Linked DNA regions of Homo sapiens. The protein of the gene in region 1 interacts with the protein of each later gene in a pairwise test. Each region holds a gene or a part of one and is shown in the gene's direction. Other genes may lie near its edges. The genes, in order: YTHDF3 and NMD3.

Region 1 (3,825 bases):
CTGTAATAGGTTTATTGTGTAAAATTTGGGGAAGAGGAGAGTATAAAGAAAAGTCATGTCTGTTATTCCACCAATAAGAAACTATGATAAGGAATTTGTTTTATGTCTTTTTTTGAAATGAACAAGGCAAAGCAAAACAAAAAGAAATTTGCATCATGCTATAAACGTAATCTTGAATCTTCTCAAGACTGTGAGCATTTCTCCATTTTTTCCTTAATGAAAGTACAAAATCTAATGGTTGAACTGGATTCCATCATATAGATAAGCTGTAATTCCTCTATTATTCGGCAGAGTTGTCTAGTTTATTTAATCCTTGTGTGTAAGTGATTGCATACATCAATTGATTAAAGTACAGCTGGCTGTAAATGGTAATTTTGTGTCCACAAAGTTTATATATTAGCCTTTTGTAGAAATTATGATATTTTTAAATTGTGACAGAGGGCCTGGCTCTTCAAACAAAAATAATACTCATTATACCCCCACTCTCATCCCTGAAAAAAGCCATATAGGTTAGTTTGTAAGAAATATTTTAAGATGTGACTACTCATCAGCAAATTTTTCTGTTGATAAAACTGGATTTGAAATTTTAATTTTGTTTATCTAGAATAGGTACATCTTTTATTTTCATTTACTTAAAACTTCTTGATTTTAATCTTTCAGATTTCTTTTTTTGCTCTTTTAAGAGGACATTTCGCTACTGATTGTGATATTTTGTTTTGCAGAGTAACAGCTATCCACCAATGTCAGATCCATACATGCCTAGTTACTATGCTCCATCCATTGGATTTCCATATTCTCTTGGGGAAGCAGCGTGGTCCACAGCTGGAGACCAGCCTATGCCATATCTGACAACCTATGGACAAATGAGTAATGGAGAACATCACTATATACCAGATGGTGTATTTAGTCAACCTGGGGCATTAGGAAATACCCCTCCATTTCTTGGTCAACATGGATTTAACTTTTTTCCTGGTAATGCTGATTTCTCTACATGGGGGACAAGTGGATCTCAGGGACAATCAACACAAAGTTCTGCTTATAGTAGCAGTTATGGCTATCCACCTAGTTCTCTTGGGAGAGCTATTACTGATGGACAGGCTGGATTTGGCAATGATACTTTGAGTAAGGTGCCTGGCATTAGCAGTATTGAGCAAGGCATGACTGGACTGAAAATTGGTGGTGACCTGACAGCTGCAGTGACAAAAACTGTAGGTACAGCTTTGAGCAGCAGTGGTATGACTAGCATTGCAACCAATAGTGTGCCCCCAGTTAGCAGTGCAGCACCTAAACCAACCTCCTGGGCTGCCATTGCCAGAAAGCCTGCCAAACCTCAACCGAAACTTAAACCCAAGGGCAATGTGGGAATTGGGGGTTCTGCTGTACCACCACCTCCTATAAAACACAACATGAATATTGGAACTTGGGATGAAAAAGGGTCAGTGGTAAAGGCTCCACCAACCCAACCAGTTCTGCCTCCTCAAACTATAATCCAGCAGCCTCAGCCATTAATTCAACCACCACCATTGGTGCAAAGCCAACTGCCTCAACAGCAGCCTCAACCACCACAACCACAGCAGCAACAAGGACCTCAGCCACAGGCCCAGCCTCACCAAGTGCAGCCTCAACAGCAGCAGCTGCAGAATCGCTGGGTAGCTCCTCGTAACAGGGGAGCAGGCTTCAACCAGAACAATGGAGCGGGCAGTGAAAACTTTGGTTTAGGTGTTGTACCTGTCAGTGCTTCACCTTCTAGTGTAGAAGTGCATCCCGTGCTGGAAAAGCTAAAGGCCATAAACAACTATAATCCCAAAGACTTTGATTGGAATCTGAAGAATGGACGTGTGTTTATAATTAAAAGCTACTCTGAGGATGACATACATCGTTCCATTAAATACTCTATCTGGTGTAGTACTGAGCATGGTAATAAGCGTTTGGATGCAGCTTACCGTTCCCTGAATGGGAAAGGCCCACTCTATTTACTCTTCAGTGTGAATGGCAGTGGACATTTTTGTGGAGTGGCTGAAATGAAGTCTGTTGTGGACTATAATGCGTATGCTGGTGTCTGGTCTCAGGATAAGTGGAAGGGCAAATTTGAAGTTAAATGGATCTTTGTCAAAGATGTTCCCAATAACCAATTACGGCATATTCGCTTAGAAAATAATGACAACAAACCGGTTACCAATTCAAGGGACACTCAAGAGGTACCCCTAGAAAAAGCTAAGCAAGTGCTTAAAATAATTGCTACTTTCAAGCATACCACCTCAATCTTTGATGACTTTGCACATTATGAAAAGCGTCAAGAAGAGGAGGAAGCCATGCGTAGGGTAAGAATATAGTAATTTTTTGTTTGGGGTCTTTGTATTGCTGGTGGGGTGCATGGATGGGTATATTCTGAGTTTAAGAACTTTCTGTGAAGGAAACCAACTACTTAAGAAACAACTCTACAAACACCCTTGAAGGTATCTATGTGTGTCCTATATGAACCATTTCTTCTTTCCTTTCCCAGGGTAACTCACGCTGAGTTAGCCTCTTGCTCATTCTTCATACTCCCTAGATGATAAAGGCCATTGGGCCTCAGTGTTTATCATCAAAGCTGAATGAATTTTGGCATTTGTAACTAAACAGACTTCATGAACTAACCAGGGGCTCTAATCATTAATATTATTAATCATACTAACATAGGAGAAAATATATTTAGAGTTTGAAACAACTTTTTTTTTGAGATGACATCTTGCTGTGTTGCCCAGGCTGGAGTGCAGTGGCTATTCACAGGTGCAGTTATGGCGTATAGCCTCAAGTTCCTGGCCCCAAGCAATCCTCCTGCCTTAGACTCCCAAGTAGCTGGGACTACAGACCTGTACCACTGAACCTGGCACTTAAAACAAGTTTTTATTTATTTATATTTTATATATTATTTAATTTTTTTTCAGACAGGGTCTCTCTTGTCCCGGCAGGAGTGTACTGGCGTGAACATGGCTCACTGCAGCCTTGATCTGCTGGGCTCAAGTGATCCTCCTACCTCAGCTTCCCGAGTAGCTGGGACTACGGTCACACACCACCACGCCTGGCTAATTTTTGTATTTATTGTAGATAGAGGGTTTCACCATGTTGCCCGGGCTGGTCTCCTGAGCTCAAAGGATCTGCCCCTACCCCTCTGCCTCCCAAAATGTTGGGATTACAGTCCTGAGTCACTGCACCCAGCTGAAACAACTTTTAAATAAATGTTTTACTCTAATTTTGTGTTTATAAGAAATTACATATATATATATATATATATATATTTTTTTTTTTTTTTTTTTTTTTCTTTTGTGAGATGGAGTCGCTCTCTGTCGCCCAGGCTGGAGTGCAATGGAGTGGTCTTGGCTCACTGCAACGTCCGCCTCCCGGATTCAAGTGATTCTCTTGCCTCAGCCTCCCGAGTAGCTGGGATTACAGGCACACGCCACCATGCCTGCCAAATTTTTGTATTTTTAATAGAGACGAGTTTCACCATGTTGGCCAGGCTGGTCTTGAACTGCTGACCTCGTGATCCGTGCGCCTCGGCCTCCCAAAGTGCTGGGATTACAGGCATGAGCCACTGTGCCTGGCAAAATATGTTTTTAAAACATAAAACTCTTGAAGTATTTTTATAATTTTTATACTTAAAGCACTTGTACAAAATAGAGGCTTTGCAGAATTTGATTCCTAATTCTGTTATATACCCTCTGTAAGATTGAGGGAGACATTCCTGAAATAAAACATGCTGTTTATCCTTGTATTATATTGGCCAGAATATTTTTATTTTTATTTTTTAAAAATATCCTATTGAGTGGCCCATATGGGGATTAG
Region 2 (3,825 bases), on another chromosome or scaffold:
GAGACTCCCAGGGTACCCTTGTGTGTGTGTGTGTGTGTGCGTGCTAATAATGCTTCTTGAGACAAAAATAACTTGTGATAATTTGGGAAAAATTAATGGAAATGGAAGACAGATGACATTCTACATTTTATTTATAAATTAAGGTAATGTACTTAGGGCAAACTTTTCATTTATAATAAATGTAGAGTATCATTTCCCTTCAGGCAGATATAAAACCAGATACTGTATTTTCTTGGTTTTTAAAAAATAGCTAGAAGAGGTTAATAAATTTCTTACAAGCAGAAGTCTAATAGCTAGAAAGTAAATCCTGTTAAATAAAATGTAGTCTCCCTGTTAATTGACTTTTCTTTTGCAGTTCTTAAGTTTGAGACTTGTCTTTTATTTCAGTTTCTCCTTCTGCTCTATTTCTTTTCATTTTTTTCATTTCTTTTTCTTTGACCAACTGCAATAAGAAACACTTGATTCTTTTCATAACTTTATTTTGAGATTCCTTAATTTTATTTATAACTCTTAGTATTTTTCTCTCGATCTCACTTCAGTTGGTCTGTCTTTGTTGTTAAAGGTGTTGGCATGTTAGAAAGGGAATTAATAGTTTTCTAGTTTAAAAATTGGGATGTTGTTTCTGCTATATATATATTATATATAGCAGATGTACTATATTATATATAGCAGATGTAGAGAATGATTGTAGTCTACACTAGTAGATACTTTAAAAATTAATTTGATAAAGATTTGGCCTCTCTAGTGGTTTACTACCAGGATTTCTAGGCTGTTTTGTCTGGACCCTGATTTTCTGAACCCTTGTGTCAAGCAAGAGTTTGCTTGGAATACGTTCTTGCTTTAAGATTCCCCTACCTTTTCAGTTATTTTGTTCACTCTGCCTATGTTGGCCCATCTTCCTGTGAAAACATTTCTTTTGAAAATTCTACATATATATATTTTTAGGGACATTATTAATGTTTTATAAAAGTCTTGAATAAAATCTTAGAAAAAGTCAATGATTTATTTTTATGAATTGTTTGTGAGTCTTTCTATACTCATGATTCAGTAATTTGTTAATTTTGACAGTGTTTCATACATCAGAAAAATACAAAAAATTTTCTGTCTTTAAAAATTAGAAAACCAAAAATCAATATTGTATTTAACTTTTCTCTGAGATGCTTTTAGAGTTATGTTTAGATTATTGAAGAGTACATTTTCTTTCCTCTTAAGCATACCCTCGGGGAAGTCTGGGTACAGAAGACATCTGAAATGAATACAGATAAACAGTATTTTTGTCGTACTCATTTGGGACATCTTCTAAATCCCGGAGACCTGGTGTTAGGGTTTGTATTATTTCATATTTTAAACTGCCAATTAGGATTGCAAATTTTCTTTGGGAACCAGCAAAACTACCTAAAAATACTAACATTGTTTATTCTAAAAAGATCGAAGGGTTCTTAGGAGCCTTATAACTCATTTTATTGTTGATAACTAAATTAAACTGGGTTGGACAGAAGCCCATAGTTACTCCATTTTGGTTATAATCTTAAAGAGTAATTTGTTGTAAGATTTTGTTAATTGAGCCTTGAAGTTATATGGTTGTATCCATATTTAGAACTGCTTTTGCAGATTGGGTCTTTTTTATTGTGCAGTTGCTACTGCTCAGATAACTCACTTTTAAGATATGACAACTATATATATACAAAGGGCTTGTAAAGGCATAGATCAGTTCTTTCTGAATCAGAGTTTTTCAGTGAGTGTGTGATTAAACCCTCAAATATTGCTTTTGCTTTTAGGATTTCAGTTTCTTTTACTACAGAATGAGGTGTTTTTTTTTTGTTTGTTTGTTTAAAATAAACTAGAAGGAAGCAACTAATTGAATTCTAAAGTTGGACTGATATGTAAGTCTGTTTTGCTTTTACAAATGTATGGCAAGGTGGACAATAATTGATTATAAGTGAAACTCAGAGTTCCTTATTGTCTTTACCAGCATCTACAGAAGCATGTTCATTGTGTAATAAATGACAGAACTTTTAAAGTGAGAAGCATATTAAATGTTTGATTTTTAGGAAGTTTTAGGTGATAGCCATAAAATAAAAAGTTACACACAAAGGGTAAATGGTCACTAAGTTTTTCATTGTTTACATTTCAGGTTTGATTTGGCCAACTGTAACTTAAATGATGAGCATGTCAACAAAATGAACTCAGATAGAGTTCCAGATGTGGTAAGGCTTTAGATTTTTCCCTTTTTTCCTGTGTTAAAGAGGATGAATGTAACTCTTAGGGGTAAGAGGTAGGAGTTCACACTTTTGAAAATAACAAATCAATTTAGAGATTTCTGAAACTGCAGATAAGGTATAATAGCAAAATTTTTTTTTTTTTTTTTTAAAGAAACAGGAGGCTGGGTGCAGTGGCTCAAGCCTGTAATCCCAGCACTTTGGGAGGCCTAGGCAGGTGGATCACCTGAGGTTGGGAGTTCGAGACCAGCCTGACCAACATGGAGAAACCCTGTCTCTATTAAAAATACAAAAAAATTAGCCAGGCGTGGTAGTGCAAGCTTGTAATCCCAGCTACTTGGGAGGCTGAGGTAGGAGAATTGCCTGAACCGAGGAGGTGGAGGTTGTGGTAAGCTGAGATTGCGCCGTTGCACTCCAGGCTGGGCAACAAGAACAAAACTCAGTCTCAAAAAAAAAAAAAAGAAATGGGAGTCTTGCTTTATTGACCAGGCTTGCGTGCAGTGTCATGATCACTCACTGCAGCTCAAAATTCTGAGCTCAAGTAATCCTCCCACCTCAGCCTCCTGAGTAGCTGAGACTACAGGCACATGCCACCACTCCCAGCTAATGTTTAAAACACGTTTTGTAGAGACGGGGTCTTGTTATGTTGCTCAGGCTGGTCTCGAACTCCTGGCTTCAAGTGATCCTCCCACCTCAGCCTCTCAAGTAGCTGGGATTACAGGTGTCACCTATCATGCCTGGCTTCATTTTAAATAATTTTTCTTGGTGGGGTAAATCCAAGATTTATTGTGATTGTTCCTTTTCTAATCACATTTTCATTCTCGATCAAAATACCTGATATTATCTGTAGAGCAAAAATAAATTTAGCCGGGTGCGGTGGCTCATGCCTGTAATCCTAGCACTCTGGGAGGCTGAGGTGGGTGGATTGCTTGAGCTTAGGAGTTCGAGACCAGCCTGGAAAACACAGTGAAACCCCATCTTTACTAAAATACAAAAAATTAGCCAGGCGTGGTGGCATGCACCTGTAGTCCCAGCTACTTAGGAGGCTGAGGCAGGAGAATTGCTTGAACCTGGGAAGTGGAGGTTGCAGTGAGCCAAGATCATGCCACTGCATTCCAGCCTGGGTGATAGAGCAAGATTCCGTCTCCAAAAGATAAATAAATAAATTTGCAGCTAAAAATGATGACATTTAGCATTTTTTCAGGTTCATTTTTATTAGGCTCACTTCGTTTCACATACATTGTTCAGTTAAGAAGGCATTTAGAGTTAAGGCTGTTATTCAAAGCTGAATAAAATATCCGTGAAAAATAATCTTCACAGTATCAAGCCTTGGAAAAAAACTATTAATTCTGAAAAATCTGTTAAGTTCTAACATGATGAGGTTAAGAATCATGAGAAACTGAATGAAATTAGTGTGAAAGACCCTGTCTTCTATACTTGCTTAATCTTTTAGAATAAACATTGATTTCTTTAGCAGTGAGCAAAAAAAGTAGAGCCATGACAAATCAAGGACTCCGACCACCTGCCCAGTTGTACTTTTATTAGTTGATAAATTAGGAATTAACAGCGTGGTTGGAGTGTAAGTCTAAATAGGTATTTCTAACAA

What was found.
Region 2: the proteins of YTHDF3 (region 1) and NMD3 interact in a two-hybrid assay, tested with the Homo sapiens proteins (one large-scale study listed by BioGRID).

Annotation. Positions count from the first base shown.
Region 1 is NC_000008.11:63,185,425-63,189,249, forward strand, and holds part of YTHDF3 (YTH domain-containing family protein 3), read left to right. Parts: intron 1-722; coding exon 723-2,321; intron 2,322-3,825. UniProt on the Homo sapiens protein: Specifically recognizes and binds N6-methyladenosine (m6A)-containing RNAs, and regulates their stability. M6A is a modification present at internal sites of mRNAs and some non-coding RNAs and plays a role in mRNA stability and processing.
Region 2 is NC_000003.12:161,245,124-161,248,948, forward strand, and holds part of NMD3 (60S ribosomal export protein NMD3), read left to right. Parts: intron 1-1,212; coding exon 1,213-1,325; intron 1,326-2,134; coding exon 2,135-2,207; intron 2,208-3,825. UniProt on the Homo sapiens protein: Acts as an adapter for the XPO1/CRM1-mediated export of the 60S ribosomal subunit.